Regions from separate parts of the Homo sapiens genome. Here all the other regions are linked to region 1. The links come from fine-mapping of genetic effects on gene expression. A gene starts in region 1. Each other region holds a variant in brackets. All regions are shown on one strand. Distances are from middle to middle. Region 1 holds the start of FAM171A1 (family with sequence similarity 171 member A1). Region 2 overlaps FAM171A1 (family with sequence similarity 171 member A1). Region 3 overlaps FAM171A1 (family with sequence similarity 171 member A1). Region 4 overlaps NMT2 (N-myristoyltransferase 2).

Evidence for each region.
Region 2: its variant is fine-mapped to the expression of FAM171A1 in whole blood (INTERVAL, PIP 0.98).
Region 3: its variant is fine-mapped to the expression of FAM171A1 in stomach (GTEx, PIP above 0.99).
Region 4: its variant is fine-mapped to the expression of FAM171A1 in whole blood (INTERVAL, PIP above 0.99).

Annotation. Positions count from the first base shown.
Region 1 is chr10:15,368,244-15,373,812 of GRCh38, forward strand. It overlaps FAM171A1 (family with sequence similarity 171 member A1), which reads right to left and starts at 3,046. Exons shown (of 8, transcript NM_001010924.2): 1 at 2,713-3,046. The coding sequence starts at 2,809. RefSeq lists silencers at 2,803-3,032, 3,043-3,092.
Region 2 is chr10:15,248,948-15,254,516 of GRCh38, forward strand. All of the region lies in intron 4 of FAM171A1 (family with sequence similarity 171 member A1), which reads right to left. Among named protein-coding and RNA genes, the nearest start is that of FAM171A1-AS1, 43 kb to the left of the region's middle. The variant C/T (reference allele first, on the strand shown) is at 2,209.
Region 3 is chr10:15,344,379-15,349,947 of GRCh38, forward strand. All of the region lies in intron 1 of FAM171A1 (family with sequence similarity 171 member A1), which reads right to left. Among named protein-coding and RNA genes, the nearest start is that of FAM171A1, 24 kb to the right of the region's middle. The variant C/T (reference allele first, on the strand shown) is at 2,526.
Region 4 is chr10:15,162,808-15,168,376 of GRCh38, forward strand. All of the region lies in intron 1 of NMT2 (N-myristoyltransferase 2), which reads right to left. Among named protein-coding and RNA genes, the nearest start is that of NMT2, 3.1 kb to the right of the region's middle. RefSeq lists silencers at 3,529-3,729, 5,256-5,569. The variant A/G (reference allele first, on the strand shown) is at 3,205.

The DNA of each region.
Region 1 (5,569 bases):
CTGAAGCCAAGCCTCCAATTTTATCTTGAATATATAAAAAGCAAAGTAATGCCAAGAAATTCTGCAGATGCTAGTTTCATCAGATGACATAAAGACTCATTTAATCAAAAAGGTGTCATTTAGTTCTAGCAATCTAGTTGGACTACTACAGTATATGATTTCCGTCTGTTTGAGGTCTCTAAGCAGTTTTACCAAAGTAATTGCCAAATCCTGTTGGTGCATAATATGTATGTGCAATGCTTGTTCAAAGAATGATTCAAACAACAGATTCTACATAAAAGCAAGATTCTTACAAATTAGCTTTTGGGGAAGGTAAACATTGAACTTTTCTTCTTAAAATGCAAGCCAATGATGATCACTAAAGGTTGCGTTATGGTGTAGGTATTAGCTATGGTTGATGCTTACCTACTCAGCACCATCTGAGCACCAACTGTATGCATAACAACCTACAACCCACTGTGGGAAATGCAAAGTGAAATCAGATGCAGCATTTGTCTTCATCGTGTACATGATCCAGGAAAGCAGAGAACACATGAATTTTAAAACTACGTCATACTACAGCAAGTGAACATTAAGATGCTTTGAAGAACTCAGTGAGTTGGGACTGACCTTCTAATGTCAAAGGAGAAATTGTCCATTCCCTTAAAAATGCTGCTAGCTCAAAATCCAAATGCCAGGTAGTGAGACCTGATTTCTGAAAGAGTTCCTGGGCTCAAGGCTTTAAAAAGCCATCCTTACAGTAGATAACAACAAAGGAAGTAATCCAAGGGGTAAACTATGCCAAGATACTTGATCTCCCACTCCAACCATACCCTAAACTAAGCCACTGCTAGCCATGGCAGAAACCTCTTCTCATGTTGACCATTTCCCTCCCATTTCGCATAATATTCCATTCCTGAGAGGCGGATTTTTAGCAGCAAGAGCTGGGTAAAACGTGGTCTTAGACCTAAACCTGTTATATATATATTGAATATATATATATATATATATTGAAGACATGCCTTCCTTTCTCTAATTCAGAAGTGCATGAATTTAATATTTCCATATATTGGTATTTCAAGTGCAAAAGGAAAAATTCAACTTGCTCTTTAAAATTAACGGCCTCGCTGAAGTGCAAATATCATTCTCTAAAATAGCTGATTCAAAAAAGCAGTAGGGTATTAATAAAAGAAGCTGCAATGCAACACTGATGATCTAATGTCCTAAACATTCGTTTCCTACACGAAGAGACATATAGGTCTTTTTGTATTTTGTAGCTGTCCGCTCTTCCATGATATGCATTACTAAAATTATACACAATTCATAACGGTCATATTCTACCATGGCCATAGAAGCAGCAATGCATTTAAGATATACCAGGAAATGATACTGCAAGTGCCAGAATATGAAAACCTTCAACTCAACATGTAGGCAACAAACTCAACCCAACAGAGTGTTGGCAGAGCCTTTCCTCCCCGTAGCAACATCGTGGTGGAAGCCCGGGCGTCTCTGCTCCCAGGCACCCTGAGCATGTTAGCCGAGGAAAGGGGGTTCCAGCAAGGAGACCCTCGGATGCAGCACTCCTCGTTTCTTTGGCCTGCAGGGCCAACTTTGCAGGACACACACCCTTCTGAGGGGACAGGCCTCGGGCTCGGAATCCCGGGGTTCTGCAGGGCTGCAGGGAGCTCCCTCGCAGAGACCTGAGCCCCCGGCAAGAGTCCAGGCAGCGGTGCCCTGGGTGAATGCAGAGGCTCATCTGCGGGCCTCAGTGGCCCTTTTGAAAACGCCAGCAACAGAGGAGTCCTCGACGCTGTCCCCACAAAAATGTGCCAAGCAAGCCTCAGGGTGGGTGTGGGGGACTCCCCTCAAAAAACGCTGATTTTAAAAACAAAAGACAGGCTCGTGGCCATTCTCAGAGGCGACCACGTTACTCCCAGGGCTGGAAAGCAGATTTGTGGAGGCCAAAGACGAGACAAAAGGCACGAGCTGGCGACAAACTGATCTGGAAAGGATTTTTCTTTTTTTTTTTTTTTTTTTTGGTGAGCGATGAGGGCCTCCCAGTTCAATTCTTTCTTCCCTTACAGAGAAGACTCATGGGCCGCTGAGCAAATCCCTTATGGTCTGGAAGAGACGTCAGATAGGCAGGGGGAGAGAACCCCCCAAACTTTCCCAAACTGCGGCAGGCTAGTGGCTAGTGGCGGCAGCGGACCTCGGGGCCCCGGGACACAGGGGGCACCCCGGGGCGTCAGCCACCCCCTCCCGCCACAACAAAAGGCCCCAGCGCAGCCCAGGAGCTGGGACTTCCCAGACCCGAGCCCGGCGTGGGGAGCCGGGAGCGCGATCGGGCGGCGCGCCCTGGGCGGCCCCTCTGTCCGCGGCGACATGGGAGACAGAGCCGCGTGTCCGAGGCGCGGCATAAAGGGGACCCCCGGGCGCATCCAGACGAGCCCCCGCCGCAGCGGCGACAGCAGCTGGAGCTGCCCGCGCCCCCGCCCGACCCAGCCCCCGATCCCCGGCCCCCGAAGCCTCCGCCCGGGTCACCCCGCGTCGCCGGCCCGCGCCGCCCCCTCGGGAGCGCGTTGCGGGTGCTGCAGGCCCGGAGGCTCCCGATGCGGCTCGGGCTGCGTCGCCACCACGCGGCCCGGGACCCTCCCGCCGCCGCCGCCGCCGCCGCCGCCTCCGCGCCAGGCCCGGCGCGACACAAAGCCCCCGGCCCCGCCGCCGCCCACTGACCTTGGGCTCCGGCGCCGGGCTCCCGCAGCGTCTTGGTCACCGCCTTCCAGACGTGGCAGCCCAGCAGGCACAGCAGCAGCGTCGCGGACCTGCTCATCTCCGCCGCGGGGCCGGCGGCGGCTCGGGCTCGCCGAGAGCGGGCCGGGCGGCGGCGCGTCACGGGCGGCCGGGCGCCGCGCCCCCCTCCATGTCGCTGGCTCCGCGCGCCGGGCCCGCCGCCCGATTGGCCCGGCCCCGCCGCCCCGGCCGCTCCCTCCCGCGCCCCGCGCCGGGTTTCCCCGAAGAGCCGCGGCGGCGGCGGCGGCGGCGGCTGCTGCTGCTCCGCCAGCTCCTTAACCCCTTCCTGCCTCGCCCGCCGCCGCCGCCGCTGCCCGCGCCCAGGCCCCGGGCCCGTGGTGCCACCTGGCGGCTGCGGCGCCGAGGGCGCCCCCGCCCGGCGCCGCTGCGTCGCGCCCCCAGCCCGACCCCCGGCGACACTGCCCCGGCGCGCCCCATCCCCGCAGCCCCGCAGAAGAGCCAGACCTGCCTTTCAGGGCGGAGCCCTTTTCATCACACCAGGTCACCCAAGGGGCCGCAGGAGACATTGTATCTGGGTGTGACCCCCCCACCAGGTGCCATCCTAATGTAGTTGTGTCCCCCAACGTAGATTTCACACCCAGTGTTAAAGATCCGCAAAAACACTCCCCAAGCCAGTATAGACTGCAGTAGGCCTGCAGTACCTACGTGTTGGCGGGTGGACAGCTTCAGGAGGAATGGTACTTGGATGGTTCTAGGGGTTAGGGTGGGGAGGAAATCCACATCTTTTGAGGCCCTAGGTGCTTTAAAACTTTCTGTCCTATTAAAGAAAAAAGACTATTCCATGACACGTGTGAAAGCACAGCAAAGAAGACCCTCTTTGGAACCATCGCAATAGGTATAAGCCCTACCATGGGATTCTGCAGTCGGGGAGAAAGGTTGGGTTCAACTCTGAATACAGCAGGAACAAGTGGGGATTTATAACCGAGGACCAGGGTGGGATGCAGGGAATGAAAAATTATAAGAGGAAACATCAGGGGGAAGGGGGATTCTTGAAAGTCAGACATCCCCTGGCAGGGCTGGGCAGGACAGGGCGGATGGGGAAGCTGATCAGATATCCAGGGTGGAGGGTTCTTGGTAAACTGACTTAGCAGGGTTCTTCCTGAAAGCAGATTTTACAAGGAAGGGCACAACTGAGCCTAGAAGAAGGTTCCGGAGCCTGACTGTAGTTCGGTCAAGCAGAGACTCTTTGTCCATCTTCACAATACATGATCTAAGAGGTAGTTAGCATTATCCCCCCCATTCACAGATGAGAAAAGAGGCTAAAGAGGGTTAAGGAATTTGTCCAAAAGTGCATACCTGGTCAGTGGCAGAGCCAAAATTCTAATAAAACAGTCAGTCTGACCCCAAAATTGAAACTCTTCACAAAAACCTCCAGACTTGGCTGGGTGTGATGGTTCATGCCTATAATCCCAACACTTTGGGAGGCTGAGGTAGGTGGATGGCCTGAGTTCAGGAGTTAAGAGACCAGCTGGGCCAACATGGTGAAACCCTGTCTCTACCAAAAATACAAAAAAATTAACCAGGCATAGTGGCCCATGCCTGTGGTCCCAACTACTCAGGAGGCTGAGGTGGGAGGATCGCTTGAACCTGGGAGTGGGGAGGTTGCAGTGAGCCAAGATCGTGCCACTGCACTCCAGCCTGGATGACAGACTGAGACCCCGTCTCAAAAAAAAAAAAAAAAAAAAATCAAAAAATAAAACCACCAAAAAAACCACACACAAAACAAAACCAAACCTCTAGACTTTCCTTGAGCCTAGGGACCCCCTCCATTCCAACCTCAACTTTTCTTTCTCTCAACCCACTCCTGTCGGTATGCCTTCCACACAACCTTCACCTCCACTTGTCCCTCTCCACCTTCTCTTCCAACTAGCACTGCGGTGACCTTCCGACTTCCACTGGGGACCTAGGAAAATCCACTCCAGACCCATCATCCACCCCACACTGCTTCCAGAACACCAGGCCAGAAGGAGGGTTATTACTGTAATTTCATTAATTGAGCATTTAGACATGGCAGGCACCGTACCAAAAAAAGAATGAAGGATGGCACTTGCCCAGTTGGCTTATAAAAGACAAATGACTGTGAGACATGAGAAAAACTAGGACGTACAGAAGCCCATATGGGTTTTATAGTCACCCTTAGGACCAATGCTGCAATTTGCGCAAATCACGCACCTGCACAGGGTGGCAGGTAGTCAGGAAGGCAGAAAGAAATAGGGACTGCTGGATTCCCTCCTTCTTCTGATTCCTGCATCTAAGCCTAATATATGGCATCAAAGTTCCTAATATATGGCACTCACTGAACTGGAGCTATTTCCTCATAACAACTTATTTGGTAGGTATCATTGTTTCCATTTCACAGATGAACAAACCGAGGCTTGGTGCCATTAAACAACTTGCCCACAATACAAAGATCTGATAAGTGTAAATTCCCTATACCATGTTACTTCTGAGAATAAATTTTATGCAAATGATTCAAATTACCTCCAGGAGTGTCCAAATTGTTTGAACCTGCTCTAATCCCAGTGAAGTGCAAATCTAGTGAATACTATGGTGCCAATGTTCATTTCCTGGCATTGACAGTGTACTACAGTTATATAAGATGTTACAATTGGGGGAAGCTGGGAGAAGGATAGATGTGACCTCTCTGTACTATTTTTGTAACTTTTTATGAGTCTATAATTATTTCAGATGGAAATATTTAAAATAGAAAAAAAATCCCATTCTATGCCATTTTTCTAAGTCTTATTGTTCACTCAAAACACTGGTGTTTGTGATCTTA
Region 2 (5,569 bases), 120 kb before region 1:
CATAATCCTCACCACAACCCAGTAAGGCAGGTAAAATCGTCATTTTTACACACAAAGAAACAGGCTCAGAGAGAGTAGTAATGGTAGGTGGCCTAAGGGCATACACTCAGTATGGGCTGAGCTGGAATCTAGGCTCAGGTTTTCTTTTTTCTTTTTTTTTTTTTTTTGAGATGAAGTCTCATTCCGTTGCCCAGGCTGGAGTGCGATGGCACAATCTCAGCTCACTGTAACCTCCACCTCCTGGGTTCAAGCGATCCTCCTGCCTCAGCCTCCCAAGTAGCCGGTATTACAGGCTTCCACTACCCTGATGGATAATTTTTGTATTTTTAGTGAAGATGGGGTTTTGCCATATTGGCCAGGCTGGTCTCAAACTCCTGACCTCAGGTGATCTGCCTGCCTTGGCAATCCCAGGCCTGTGCTGGGATTATAGACTTAAGCCACTGTGCCCGGTCAGGCTTGCTATTTTTCATTATTGTGTTTTGCTTTCAAAAACGATCTCAAAAGAGAAGGATTTTTCTATAATGTGAGACAAAGGTGTAAGTGGAAATCACCGGAAATAACTTTTACACAAAGTGAGCCCCATGCACATGTTAATTACTTGGCAGATAACCTTAATAAAACCAAATGTTTTAGAGCAGAGGCTGCTTTTTTTTTAACATAGCAAATTTCTTCAAGGATTGCTTCAAAAATATTAACTTCTGCTAAAAAGTATGCTATTGAGGACTGGACTTGAAATATTTATGAGTTATTTTAATTGCCATTGTTATTTTGATCTGTTTAAAAGGACCTCAGTATACCAATTATTTTCCATTAAAGGCCTTTGGTCCAAGCCAAAGCTTTAATGACTGCCTACAGATAAATTAGAGAATGCTTATGAGACCGATATATTTATGCACTCAAGCAATCCATTTTACATTTTCCTCTAGTGAAATACAATATCGCACAAACTGTGTTGTCATAATTTTACATATTTCTTTGAGCACAATGACAAAAACACAGCGATAAAAAATTTAAGCTGCATTAAAATACAATCTATAGGACTTTTTATTCAGCTACTTATATACTTACCTACCTACCAAACTGAGCTGATGTAAACCTCCAATCTGGTCTACATTTAAACATTTAAAGAAAACCTAGTGAATTTTAGAGTCTCAACAATGAATTACAGCTAAATCCTTCATACAGCAATTTCTACACAGCTAATGCCACCCTACCTTTTATCATTCATACCCGTCTGTTTTTTAATGAAGGCAAAGGTGTGGGAATGGAGATTTCGTGGAAAGATCGAAGTTGGAATCACAGATCCAAGTTTTGAAATCTCTTAGTCTGGTTATGTCATTTTATGGTAAAAAAACAACCAACCAACAAAACTCAGAATTTACCATGTTTCTGGTCCAAAGATTTTGTGTCTTGAAACACAAATGTGCCAGCAGCTCAAAGTTGATAGAGAAGCAAAGCCAGGTCTACAATCTACTGCTCTAGATTCTGTTAGGCCCTCTCAGGAAGATGGAACTTACAACTACAGAAAAGCTGGCCAGGCGCAGTGGCGCATGCCTGTAATACTGGCACTTTGGGAGGCCGAGGCAGGTTGCTTGAGCCCAGGAGTTCAAGAACAGCTTGGGCAACATAGTGAAACCCCGTTTGCACAAAAAAATACAAAAAATTAGCTGGGCATGGTGGTGCATGCCTACAGTTCCAGCTACTCAGGAGGCTGATGTGGGAGGATCACTTGAGCCTGGGAAGTGAAGGCTGCAGTGAGCTATGATCACACCACTGCAATCCATCCTGGGTGACAGAGTGACACCCTGTCTCAAAACAAAACAAAACAAAAAAAGAGAAACTACAGAGACATTAAATAATTTACTAGACTGTATAAACAACTGAGAGATAATGTTTTCCATCAGGGAGTGCTGTTTTCTTTCATCAAACTCTAGTCAAGATGTCCAAGTACGTAGGTAGCAGGTACTTGGTAGATAGAGGAGAAAAGCCCTAGAAATGGTGTCTCCCTTCTCCTCCCTTGTCACCTTTCAACTCTCCCTTCCTGCACATTCCCAGCCCAGGAAGATGGAGTCCCAGTACCAGATCTGCCACTCACTGCCTATGTCACCTCTGAAAGTGACTTCATTCCTCTGGGGTCTGTTTTTCTTACCTTCAAAACTAAGGAGGGTAGACTAGATGCCTTCCTGCATCTATGGAAATAAGTACACT[C/T]AGCTTGAAACATTCAGAAGTAAGTAGAGCATTGCAGAAACGAGCATATTAATGGACAGCAATGTGCATTAGGTTCATGGGATTTCATGTCCCTTTAGTGTCCTCTAGCTGTCTTAAGACATTGTGGGGAATTATATCTGCCTTCTTGAGGCCTCTTTCCTCCCTCAGGGCTTCATTAAATGCCTGCTTCTCTATGCCTTCCCAATGACTCTCCCTCTATGTCCCCATGTTGTTTATTCTGCAACGATTTTTTTTTTTTTTTTTTTAGACAGAGTCTTGCTCTGTCACCCAGAGTGGAGTGCAATGGTGCAATCTTGGCTCACTGCAGCCTCTGCCTTCTCAGTTCAAGCAATTTTCCTGCCTCAGCCTCCTGAGTAGCTGGGACAACAGGCACACACCACCACTCCTTGCTAATTTTTTTTTCTTTGTTTTTGTATTTTTAGTAGAGATGAGGTTGGTCAGGCTGGTCTTGAACTCCTGACCTCCCTCCCAGTGATCCACCCGCCTCGGCCTCCCAAAGTGCTGGGATTACAGGTGTGAGCCATCGCGCCTGGCCTATTCTGCAACAATTCACATTTTGAAGGGCTAAACTATTTTCCTTCTCTTTGTTATGAAACTCCAATTTTACACAAAATACTGAGTTTTATATAGAAAGTGGTCATCCTTCCCGTTCCATCTGGATGTTGCCTGGCTCCCTTTAAGTCTGCACAAAGACAAGCAGGTGTCAGGCAAATGCAGCAGGATCGTGTTGCGGGGCAGAACACCACTGGCCCAAGCGAGGAGAGGAGCTGTATCACCTTGGGCCATCTACCTGGTCACTCGTCACGTGACAGGTTCTGCTCAGCTGACATCTAAGGTTCTGTTGGGCTCTGTATTCTACCAACTTTTTGGAATTGCAGGAAAAGTCTGCACCTGTCATTTTATTGACTCTTCTCTGTCTTCCTGGAGTTATTAGTGAAAGCAATTTTTGTAAAAACCCCTTGGGAACACCACGGAACATTCTGTGCTTTCTCAGCAGCTGGGGGAAGAGTGCGATGCTCTCCGGTGAGAGGAGGGGGCCCCCAAGAGCTAGAAAGAGAAGATGCTTCTCCACTTACTTACAACTCTGGATCCACCCTCTAAACCAAACAACACAACCTTCATGGTACCCCCAGAAAACAGCCTTTCGGAGCCCTTTCCAGTCTCTTCCGCAGCCTCTCTGTTTCCATCCACCTTCACTGAACTCTGGTTATGACGCTAGTCATTTTCTGCGTCTTCGGGAGATGAACTTGTGTCATCTTCCAAAGACACGTCTGGTCCAGGCGTGCTCTCTTTAGGCTGTGAGCTCTTAGATGCCTTTAGTAAAACAGGAGATGAGTGACTGTGGGCAAAAGACAAGCTGTGTGCAAACTGACCCCAGGGGCCGCCATGGAGCTGGTGAGTTACTGAGGTGTCTGTGCTCAAGGGAGCCCAGGTTCCAAGTCCCCGAGGGCGCGTGTGAATTCACTATGGGTGGATGCCTTCGCTGCTAGGTCTCCAAGAAAGCCTAGTCATTTCTAGGTCAAGTCATCCATTCTTTCCGTGGAAGAGAAATTTCATGTCACATTGCAAAGACCTCTCTTCCCTTTGAAATCACGGAATGATCTTAAAATAGGACAAACTCCTCTAAAATCAATAGTTCTGTGTCTTAGTGTTCGTTTTCCCCCATTTTCTCAGACTGCATAATTTATTCAAGAGCTACTGGAAGTGGGGCACAGAAAAATTTAATGAGTCCCGAGCACGGAGGCTGTCCCTCCAAGTTAGGGTTTTGTGGATCGTGCACCATTTTGTCCGGGAGGCTGGATGCTGGCTATGATATTTTAAAACTTTGTTTTTTTGTTTTTTTTTGAGACAGAGTTTAGATCTGTTGCTCAGGCTGGAGTGCAGTGGCACGATCTTGGCTCACTGCAACCTCCACCTTCTGGGTTCAAGCGATTCTCCTGCCTCAGCTTCCTGAGTAGCTAGAACTACAGGCACCTGCCACCACACCCAGCTAATTTTTGTATTTTTAGTAGACGCAGCATTTCATCATGTTGGCCAGGCTGGTCTCAAACTTCTGACCTCAAATGATCCACCCACCTCGGCCTCCCAAAGTGCTGGGATTACAGGCATGAGCCACCGCACCCAGCCTTAAACCACTTCTTCATGCTCCCCAAAACAAGACTTTTCTCCCAGACCGGCACATTTCAAGTAATAGTCAACATTTTTTTTTCCTAATAATGTTTACTTAAGATGACTGCTATGCCATCTTTCTGATGACCAAGTACTGACATATTTACTGACAAGTTAATCACATCCTCATCAGCACACAAAAATTAAAGAAGAAACGTTTTGGAAAACAGAGAGAAGAAAAATGAGTAACAAATCACCATGTTGCCTTTATGTATAACCAGAAACTTATTAATATGCTACAAAATGGATCAAATGTTTCAGGTTTAAAAGCTTTTTCAGAATAATCAGTTTATGTAAAGCACTGGAAAATTAAGTGAAATTCAAGCCAAGTATCCCTGGGAAATGCAGTGAGTTACTCTCCTAGCAGAATGCAACTCAGAACAGCCTTTGATTTAAAATTTTAATGCTGTGATTAGTTTAAAGTGTGGGGGAAAGGAAAGTGGGGTAGACAAGAAAATAATTCAGGACTCCAGAATCCTGACACCTCTTCCACCAGGAGGAGTGGGGACCATTCCAGTGCAAAGGGGTCCAGAGAATGGTGCAGTTGGACACAAACAGAGGTGGAAGGTACCCGTCTTGGGTCTTTCTCTGATAAGGAATTATCACTTATTTTCTGGTGGATGGCTTTTAGTTTCTCTGATCTTTTAGCTGTGGCATGCCAGAATAGTGGTACTGACCCAGCTGACTTAGAGACCTGCCAGGAGAGGGCGGATTCTAAAGCAAATTCAAAGCCTGGCCACTCTATGCCCAGTTGAGGACAGAGAGAGCAAGTGCAGAGAAAGAAACGATGTGGGAAAGAGCTGGGTGGACACAGATGGCAGAGGGCGGAGGCTCCCCATCCTAAGTGGTCCCCATGCCGGTGGGGCATGGAGCCAAGGTATGCCTGTCTCTGAGTTGGACCAAGCACCACCTCTTCCCCTCCTGGCTGCAGCATAGGTGGGTGGGGTGGTAAGTCTCTACCAGCCCCACCCACCCACAGGCTACCCTCTCAAATGGGGGCTCGTGGGACGAGGCAGAGGGCAGCTGGGCCAAAAACCCTAAGTCTAATCTTATACTTAAAAAAATTGCAATTTCAATAAGAATTTCTCTGAATTGAATATATTTAGTCCACCAAAGGAGAGCTCAGAGAAGGTGCTTAAGGCAACTGGTAACAGAAGAAAAGCTCAAGGAG
Region 3 (5,569 bases), 24 kb before region 1:
AAAAAATAAACAAAATTATCCAGACATGGTGGCTCACTCCTAGAGTCCCAGTCCCAGCTACTTGGGAGGACGAGGTGGGAGGATCGCTTGAGCCCAGGTCAAGGCTGCAGTGACCAAAACTGCACCATTGCACTCCAGCCTAGGTGACAGAGCAACACTGTTTCCAACAACAAAAAAAGGATGCCCAGGTACATTCAAATTTCAGATGACAAACAAATAATTTTGTGTAAATATGTCTCATGCAAAATTTGGAATATCTTTATATTAAAATTTTATTTGTTGCTTATCTGAAATGCAAATACAATTGGTGTCCTGTATTATAACTGGCAACCCTAGGGATAACAGCCCCAAAATAAATTGTCTAGCTATGTTGTCCTGTGTTTCAGACTTTGTTACTTTGTCTCAGTGGAAAAGGATGACAGTATTACTGGATAAAAACATTTGCGAATCTCATGTTTGTTTCCCAACAAAATGCTTTGATATTCATAGGCATAGGGGCCACCTAAGAATAGGCAGAATATTCGTCTCACAGTTACTTTTCAGAGCGGAGTTCTTCAGCCCTGAACAAAGGACACAGCAGAAAGGAAACACAGCTGAGCAAATCGATGGAACAAAGGAAGCATTCAACTCACACCTTGCGTCATACACGCACAAAACTTCAGCTATCTGTAGAAGCCAGAAATGATGATGAAATTTGATCTGTTTAATCTTGTAACTATGAAGTTCCACTTCCTATTTTTTGCTTCTGTGGGAGGTGAGGGGAAGACACACAGTAGAACTTAAGGAGAGAAGAGAACGAAGGAAATTGGTACGATCACATTGACTTTTTCAGAAAACACTGCGCAGGACCAGATGAGTGAGTGGCAGTTCTGGCCCTAAGGAGAGACAGACATGAAGATGTGCACCAGCAATTGCAATCTGGGGCGGGAAGTGTCCGGACCCTCAGTGCCTAGAACAGGGCTTGGATCACTGTGCCGTTCCATAAATATTTTCTGATTAAATAGCAAAGCTAAGCACACAGACCTGGGATGGCAGAACGAGAGGGGATGACACCCAAAGGGGACAACACCTGATGCTTTAGGAAGAGTGAAAATGACTCCATTAAGCAAAAACACCCTAGAAGAGTGACCTGTATAAAGGCAGGGTGGCCGGGGAGTGAGGATATATGTCATCAGTGAGGATATCCAGACAACAGCCACTGCACAGGCCGGTGGTCAGGAGGGAGGTCTGGACGGGGGATAGCCTTGGGCATCCATCCAGGAGGGGGCTGGGAAGTGAAGCCCTGGTGCAAAGGAGATGCTCTAGAGAGGTCAGGCCTGGGATCCTAGGCCACGTCTTCCTCAAGCAAAGAGCAGGGTGCCCATCAAAAAACATACAGGTTCCTGGGCTCTAGAAAGCTGAGGAGAGCAAAGGTGCAAAGAAGACTACGAAAGGACAGATCAGCCACATAAGGAAAGCCTAGAGAGGCCCCTGCCGTGGACAGCAGGACAGACTCCTGGGGTGACGGAGGCTCCAGTGTACAAGGAGAGCAGACCCAGAAATGTCCGCTGGATCTGGAGAAACGGGTTACTGTGATGTGATAGGGAAGGGACAGACAGCAGACAGCTAAGGCATGAGTTCCCCTTAAGCAAAGGGAAAGATTGTATAGACAGCAGCTTCTGTCTATGAATGGAATGAAGGAACAGGTGGAGGGGCTCTCCCATCAAAGCGGGGCTGCTTCACAGGTATTTTTTGTTTGTTTAGAGACAGGGTTGTCTTGTCACCTAGGCTGGAATGCAGTGATCTCAGCTCACTGCAGCCTCCAACTCCTTGGCTCAAGTGATTCTCCTGCCTCAGCTTCCCAAGGAGTTGGGACTACTGGTGCGCATCACCATGCCTGGTTAATTTATTTTTAATTTTTGTAGACACTGAGTCTTCCTATGTTGCCCAGGCTGGTCTTGAACTCCTGGCTTTAAGCAATCCTCCCGCCTGGCCTCCTGAAGTACTGGAATTACAGGTGTGAGCCACTACGCCCAGCCCACAGGCATGTTCTTATGGTGGGAAGAGGCCTCAAGATCTGTATGAAATGAAGAGATGGAGCCACAGGCAGGAAAATGATTATACAGCTCCCGAATGAAAGCTCAAATGCTCTGAGCAAGAACTCACAGATCCTTTTTCTCAACTTCCTTTCCCTGCTATTCCATCCAGGAGATCCAGATGCCCCGTAGCAGAAACAAGCCGAGGTCCATCTGGACTACAGCCCACTCCTGATGTCCAGGCTCTTATCTGGCTGAGTGACTCTTCTAATACAGAAGGCGTGGAAATGAGTGTTTCAAGAGGTATGGGTCCAGCACACCCAACTCCACTGAATTCATTTAAAGACACAGAACAAAAATCAAAGCCCTGTGAACTAGGAAGGCAAGTGCTCACAAGGATAGCCATTTAAGTGATCCTCCAGAGTCTTCTGAGATTCTGCAAGCAGCTGAGAATCTCCAGGGAGGTAAATTACTAAAAAGCCACTGGAGAATTCCACCGCTTTAGCAGTG[C/T]CCGAGCCACTTTCTACAGAGGGACAAAAGACACAGAGGGAGGGGTAGCTGGCAGAGCTGGCTGCTGTGCTATCTGGACATGGTGCAAAAAACACGGCTTTTTGCTACGTCAACTGTAGTAAAAGAGATCTCAGGAAGACCTAGACATTTGTTAAAATTAAACAATTTTTTTTAAAAGAATGGGAAAATCAGGCATTCTGCATCTCTGAGCAACAATAGCCAACTATTATTTCTTTAAATGAACCCCAAAGAGCACTCATAAAAGACTTATTCAAGATGCCATTTGCACAATACTAAAAGATCACACGAACAGAACTCATAAAAATGTGCAAGCTTTATAGTTGATAACAGTCGAACTCCATTTAAAAAGAAAAAGCATAAAAGGGTGGTTCAACATGAAGTACAAACTGGACCTAGGACAACAGCAGTATTTCTGTTGCTCCCTGAAGCAGTTTTCATTGGGTCGGAAATCGATGCAGTCTGACTGGAGGTGACCTAAAAGCAGATGAAAGACAGCCAGGCCCAAAGTCCACAAACAGCATCGGTAAGACCTACTGAGAGTTTCTTATGCATATAATAAGTATGCAATACAATATTTTTATTGTTATGAACGGAGTCACCAAGTATTTACCTAGAAAAAGCTGCAGAATTCGGCCGGGTGCAGTGGCTCATGCCTGTAATGCCAGCACTTTGGGAGGCCGAGGCGAGTGGATGACAAAGTCAAGAGATGGAGACCATCCTGGCCAACATGGTGAAATCCTGTCTCTACTAAAAATACAAAAATTAGCTGGGCGTGGTGGTGCGCACCTGTAGTCTCAGCTACTTGGAGGCTGAGGCAGGAGAATCACTTGAACCCAGGAGGCAGATGTTGCAGTAAGCCGAGATCGCACCACTGCACTCCAGCCTGGGCAACAGAGCGAGACTCCATCTCAAAAAAAAAAAAAAAAAAAAAAAAAATTAAGAAAAGAAAAAGCTGCAGAATTCCTTCCACATGATTTGCGTTCTACCCCAATGCTTGACATACTAAATCCACCACCTCTCTTGAAGCTAGGTTTTGAATAAAATGAGAATGACATTTTCTTTCTTTCTTTTGAGACGGGGTCTTGTTCTGTCACCCAGGCTGGAGTGCAATGGCACCAACTCGGTTCACTGCAATCACCACTTTCTGGGTTCAAGCGAGTCTCCTGGCTCAGCCTCCCGAGTAGCTGGGATTACAAGCGCCTGCCACCATTCCCGGCTAATTTTTTGTATTTTTAGTAGAGATGGGGTTTCACCATGTTGGCCAGGCTCATCTCAAACTCCTGACCTGAGGTGTTCCGCCTGCCTCAGCCTCCCAAAGTGCTGGGATTACAGGCGTGAGCCACTGTGCCTGGCCAAGAATGACATTTTCTAGGTAGCCTTTTTTTTGGTTTAATGTATAGACAGGGTGTCACCATGCTGCCCAGGCTGGTCTTGAACTCCTGGGCTCAAGTGATCCTCCCGCCTCAGCCTCCCAAAGTGCTGGGATTACAGGCGTGAGCCCCCATGCCCGGCCTCTAGGTAGCTTTCTTAAATTGAGATGTTAAAAGTCTAAGGGAAAAGGAGTGGCTTGTTTACCTGTAGGCAGAACTGACTGCAGTGTAACTAGGACCCCTTGCAGTCACCAGGGTCTATGACGGCGTCCTGGCTCTGCCCCTCTCTGTTCCTAACCATCAAGCCTGGATGTGCAGCCCTGCTACTTCGAGTGTGGTCCTCCAACCAGCAGCATCAGCCTCACGGAAGAGCTTGTTAACAGTACAGCCTCTCAGGGGCCACACGGGACCCTGAATTTGAATCTGCATTTAACAAGATCCCCAGCTGATTCCCATCCATGCTTCGTGACGCAGTTGAGCAGTGAGAAAAGCTGGCTGAGTGAATTGCTGCCCCATTCCAAAAAGCCATCGGGAGAACGGGCAGCAGCTGCAGGAAGTGACTTTCACTGTACTCCATTTCATTTTATCACACTTTCATTTTATTGACCTTTTCTCTAAAGCAACGGAGCTGTTTTCCTTTGTTTTATTCATAACTCTTAATTTTTAAAAGTAGTCTGACTTCATGCTACCATCTCAAATTGTATCAACTTTAAATTATTTACATGAATCGGGAGGGAGGAAATGGAAACCATTTTTCACATTCGATTTATATCCAATCAGAGTTTTTTCTTTTTTCACAACAGTTGTTAAGTTGTTAGCAAACCTGTGTTTTCACAGCAAGCTAGGAAGTCCCTTAGATCATTATCCAGAAAAACGGCATGTAATTAGGACTACACAGAAAGGCGCCCTAGAAAATACAGAACAGGGCTAGAGGTACACACCTGCAGACAGGTGTTCTACAACAAGGCTAAGTGCACATCTGTCCACCTGGAACAGCAATCTTGCTTACTGAGTAGTTAACTGCATGCAATAAACTGTGAACTCAGGAAGGGCGAGGGCCATGCATGTAACTCGAGTAGGAGGGGTTCAATAAATATCCATGAATCAGTGAATCGATGAATATCACTTAAAACAGGCTCTTCCCACAACACTCTGCTCCTTCCCTTTCAATTCCTGTAAAGGCCAGAATATTAAAGGAACCTCCAAGTCATTCTTGATTGCTAAGAGGCCACTAGCCACACTGAGATGGCTCCTCCAGGGTGGCCCTCATGAGGACCACTAAAGGGCTTTTCCCACCAGGAAGTAAATCACTCCTATGCCATCAGAAGGATGTTCGGCATCAGCTTCCCTATCCTGAACACTTTTAGGACTTGGAAAGGTAAACGTGGCACCGATCTGGGTGTAAATGGCTTCACTCAACAATGTTCATAATCTCTTTCTGCCCCTGCTAAAATTCTCTTGAAAGAGGTGGAACTTTCTGTACCCTTTTGGTTGCTGTGATGTGGACACTCTTTAGTTAACTGAAAAGGCAACAACAAGAACGAGGAAAGAAAGTAAAAGAGATCAGCCACAAAGACAACTAAGGGTGTTCTAAACAAATCACATGAGATTAGCAGAACAGGTGGGCTGGAGGAAAATTCATGCTGGAAAAGC
Region 4 (5,569 bases), 210 kb before region 1:
TTATATATCTGTATTTGATATTTATATATCTCTATATATTTGATATTTATATATCTATATATTTGATATCTTTTGATATTTATATATGTGATATATATAAATATATACATATAAGAGAGAGATATATATATATGTATATTTTTAGACAGAGTCTCATTCTGTTGCCCAGGCTGGAGTACAGTAGTGCGATCACAGCTCTCTGGGCTGAAGCAATTCTCCCATCTCAGCCTCCCAAGTAGCTGGAACTATACGCATGCACCACCATGTCTAGCTCATTTTTTATTTCATCGAGATAGGGTCTTGCTATGTTCCCCAGGTTGATCTTGAATTCTTGGCCTCAAGCGATCCTCCACCTTGGCTTCCCAAAGCACTGGGATGACAGGCATGAGCCACCACACCTGGCCCTATTGTTTGATTTTTGAATAAGCGTATTTTTAAAACGTCATTAACATGTTTTCAAAGAAAACAACAATCAATTTCTTGAACTTGGAGTAGAACTTGGTTCTGTTAAAATAAAGTGATTTTAACTAGTATAGATGTATAACGTACATTTGCACTAACAAACAAAGATGGCAAAGTATGTGTCCTATATTTAGACAACCCTGGAAAAAATTTGTTCTGGGCCAAAGGGTGACATCACCCATTCAGATGCAAGTCTTAGCAGACACTTGATCATTTCAAACAGTAGTTCTTGATTTGAGGAGGTCCCTCAGGCAAAGACTGTCGTTAATCTATTTTTCCATTTAGATTTATACAGTTGATAACAGATCAAATTTCAGAAAGGGCAGCTTTGAGTTATCCCTAAATTTTCCATAAGAAAAACTTATTGCAAGTCATAATGTTTCTGCATTTTCCCACTGATACCACACAGCTGACAAAGGGGAAGTTCCCAACTCAATTTCAACAACAGACATATGAAGTCAGATACAACAACATAGTGCCCAAAGAAGAACTTCCTTTTTTTACCCCCTAAATTGGGGATGGTAGAAGACAGATTATGTTCTTTGTTAAAAGAATTCCAAAGTTTTCATCTTTGTCCAATACCAGATCTTCAATCTTTCTAAGAAAAAGAACTCTTAAAAACGTCTTAGGCCGGGGACGGTGGCTCACGCCTGTAATCCCAGCACTTTGGGAGGCCGAGGCGGGCGGATCACAAGGTCAGGAGATGGAGACCATCCTGGCTAACATGGTGAAACCCCGTCTCTACTAAAAATACAAAAAAATTAGCCAGGCGTGGTGGCGGGCGCCTACTGTAGTCCCAGCTACTCCGGAAGCTGAGGCAAGAGAATGGCGTGAACCTGGGAGGCAGAGCTTGCAGTGAGCCGAGATCGCGCCACTGCACTTCAGCCTGGGGGACAGAGCGAGAATTGGTCTCAAAAAAAAAAAAAAAAAAAAAAAAGGTCTTAACCCTATTTCATGTCTACCCCAGGGACTAATTTAGTCATGTATCTGCCAACAAAAACATACTCACCTATGTTTATTTTGGTTCCTATATAAATCTTCTTAGTAGCTGCTTCCAGTGAATATTGAGGGAAAAGCTCTCTTAACGGAAAGCTATGAGAAACATCTATTTTTCTAGGAAGTATATGCTCTCTGTAAGTCAATGTTGGTTAAGCAAGGGGACAGATTTGGTTTTGTTACCAAAGTTCAACACGAATTTTATTTGACTCTGTCTCCAACAATGGACCATAACATTAGCTCAGTAAGAGATCATGACCAATACCAAATGTATTTCATAACTGGAGAAGCCGGACATCAAAAGGACAGCGAGAAGACAGTGGGTTCTAAATAATTCTTCAACAATTTGGCCTGTCCTCAATGTCCCCAAAGCCCTTCAGAAGAAAGTAACAGAAGGCAAAAACACAGCAAAATGAGGGAAGTATTAAAGATCCTTGAGCATCTTAACCTCAGATCCAACGGTGAAAGCTCCTAGGAAATTCATCCTCCAGGCCGGGCACCATGGCCTGTAATCCCAGCACTTTGGGAGGCCGAGGCCAGGGGATCACCTGAGGTCAGGAGTTCAAGACCAGCCTGACCAACATGGTAAAACCCCATCTCTACTAAAAATACAAAATTAGCCAGGTATGGTGGCACACGCCTGTAATCCCAGCACTTTGGGATGCAGAGGTGGGGATCACCTCAGGTCAGGAGTTTGAGACCAGCCTAACCAACACGGTAAAATCCTGTCTCTATTAAAAATACAAAATTAGCTGGGCGTGGTGATGCACGCCTGTAATCCCAGCTACTTGGGAGGCTGAGGCAGGAGAATTGCTTGAACCCGGGAGGTGGAGGTTGCAGTGCGCCAAGATCGTACTATTGCACTCCAGCCTGGGTGACAAGAGCAAAACTCCATCTCAAAAAAAAAAAAAAAATCATCCTCCAGGTCACCTTTTTGTACCACTGCCACCCATAGCAGAACAGAAATCTTCAGTAATCTGGACTATTTCTAATAATTCATATAGGAAGCTGGACTGAGGTTAATTTTTATCTATGTAGAAAGTCTTTCCAGGCTCCTTCAAGCTCTTTATAAAGACCTACTCCCTAATTCTAATTGCAAATCGTGTGTTAAAGTAAGTTATATAAAGATGTCTTTAGGCAATCCTCTATTAGCCTGGTTCTAATTGCCAAACATTGTTTGAAAATAATAAAATTATACTTGTCTGAATATAGTCTCACTAATTAAAACTGACAATCCCTTCTTCCCCCATGTTTTTTGTAATTCATGAAAGTTTTATAGTGGTTTGCCACTTCCACGCTTGGGTGGACCAAAAAGTTAAAGAGTACATTTAACTCTTTACACTGGCTTACACCTGTAATCCCAGCACTTTGGGAGGCCGAGGCAAGCATATCACCTAAGGTCAGAAGTTCGAGACCAGCCTGGCAAACATGGTGAAACCCCATCTCTACTAAAAATACAAAAATTAGCTGGGTGTGGTGCCACGCGCCTGTAATCCCAGCTACTTAGGAGGCTGAGACAGGAGAATTGCTTGAATCCAGGAGGCGGAGGTTGCAGTGAGCCGAGATTGCACCACCGCACTCCAGCCTGGGTGACAGAGAAAGACTGTCTCAAAAAAAAAAAAAAAAGGTACATTTTCCATGAAAAACAAGATATAAAGACAGTGAGACTCAAGTATTTTATAATACTTACGCCATTGCTTTTAATTAAACATAAAACATCTGATATTTCATTCATGGACTCTTAGC[A/G]TTATCTATAAAACGAAATACCCTTTTTAGTCCATGAAGAAAATTCCATGAAAATAAAAGAACAGCATATGCAGTTTTACATATTTAAATACTTACATTTTGGTGCAAAACAAGACTCTAATTGGGTATTTTCCTTTTATTTGAGGCTTTAGTTTCAACTTAATATGTCTAAAAGGACTAGTAAATACATTATACTGAGTGGTGGGGTAAATGAATTCTTTCAGGCCACAAGGGCACTATTCAGTAAATTACCTCTCTGCACTGGCCGCTGCCTGGTGGCCTCAAATTGACAAACTGCCTTTAAGAGGTGAAACATGTTCTTACTGATTCATCCAAAGGCTCATTATTTGTTATTTATTTAAACTGATGGGAATGAAGAGGCCGAGTATAGAAAAAGAGTCTTTCAAATTTTAACATTTACAAACTTGAGCTACTTAAAGAAAACCTAGGTTTCTACTGCGATATCATCAGTACATGAGCCAAATAAAACACATTTACTCCCCCAAATTTGGCACACATTGTCTAAATTCAAATCCAAACAGGCAATCCAAGGAGAGCAGTCATTTGGAGTTTTCCTAATCTCCTTACATTTAAATAGAGTACAATACATCCATTATGTTAATCTTTTCCCACTAGAAGCTATTAACATGGTATCTGCTCTTGGTGAAAACATTTCAGTCCATGGGGCATCTCTAAATTTTGATTAACCTTTCTAATATATAAAATGTGCTGATATACAAAACTGAAAACTTCCGAAGGCAGCACAGATGCCTCTGGGTGCTACTCTGGGAACTTTAGCTTCTTGAAAGGTGTCGGGGGACAGGCTCAGATCAATGCGCACACAGATGAGGAATTCTTTGTACCAGGGGCATTCTCAACAGTGTAAGCAAAGAAGTCCTAATCAAGCCCCCAACCTAGAATATCAATCAAAGGAGGAACAATAAACAGAAATTACAGCAGAGAAGATAAAAGTCCAGGGTCTCTCCAGAAAGAAAACACAGGTACTGAAGCTAATCCATCAGCTTGCATCTGCACCTGGGCCCATTTCTGGCAATAGAACTACCGTTTCAAAAACATATTTGTATTTAGCTATCTATCACAAACACGTTTCTATCCCTGCATAAACAGGGCTCAGGTTCAGATTCCTATGCAATTTCCTTTCCTCTCTTTAAAAAAAAAAATATTCTAGACTCGAACATTCGATACTTGCAGCCGCCACTGAAGTATTCACGGCAAAGATAAAAACAACTTGCAAATGGGAGATGCACATAGTCAGCTTTTCTTTTTCTTCATTTGTTAATATTTTATAATGAATTAGAGGTCAGTCAAAAGTCCCTTTCTATAATAAATCTTAAAGTAGACAAGTAGAATGCAAATGATTTACACTTTCAATGATCAATCATTTCAAGAATCTCTCTACGAACTGAGTAAACCATCTGTGACTCAGGCCTCCCTATCATGTTTTTTAAGCTGACCCACTTCTCCATCACTCACCATGGTTCGAAAAATCTCACTTCTAAGGGTGTAGCAAGAACCGCTCTGTGCCAGCGCATAGTTTGAATCCAATAGGGTAAAAGGGTAATGTAAACAGCACTTTAAAAGGACACCAGTTTTTATTTAAAATGACCCACTGCCTCTAAAAAGAGAGCATCAACACCGGCCTTCACCTGAAGCAATCCTTTTCTCCAACAGAAGAGCAAATCAAGTCTGCAGGGTTCGGGGGCAAAGGGAAAGGATTAAGAAATCCGATCAAGTGTGAAAATGCGTGGTGCATCGAGTTTTGGAGATCAAATACCAGCTTTGCAAACAGGATACGGCCAGGTCAGCGGGAGCCCGGTTCAGGGGATCGGCCCTGCTCTGAAGAGCTCTAGGGACAGGCGAGGCGGTGCAAAGCCCAGTATCCCCAGCAGGGGCCGGGCCCGGGACCCCCTCGGCGCCAGAACTTTGCGCAGTTCGCCGCCTGCGGCCCCGACACCATCGGGGCACCTCCACGCCGCTCCACCCACGTCTTTGCCCATTCTTTTCGGGTGGCGGCTGCGGAGAGGGAGTCTGAAGGGACTTAACAAGGATGGCAGGGAGCAGAGGAGGGCGACCTCCTACCCCAGGCTGCGGCCGCCACAAAGGGAAGGGCGTAGCGCCTCTCCTCGGCGCCCACCGGAGCCACCCGCGGGCGAGGGCAACAGGCGCCTCCTGGGCCAGGCCGCCGGCGGGGATGGGCGAGGCTGGCCGGGGGCGCGCGGCAAGTGACAGTAGCGTCTCCCCGCCCGGGCCCCAGCCTCCCCGCCCACCCCGGGCCTCGCCTCCCCGCGCACTGCACTCTCCCGCGAGCCGCGCGCCCCGGACCTCACCATGGGCTCCGCGCCAC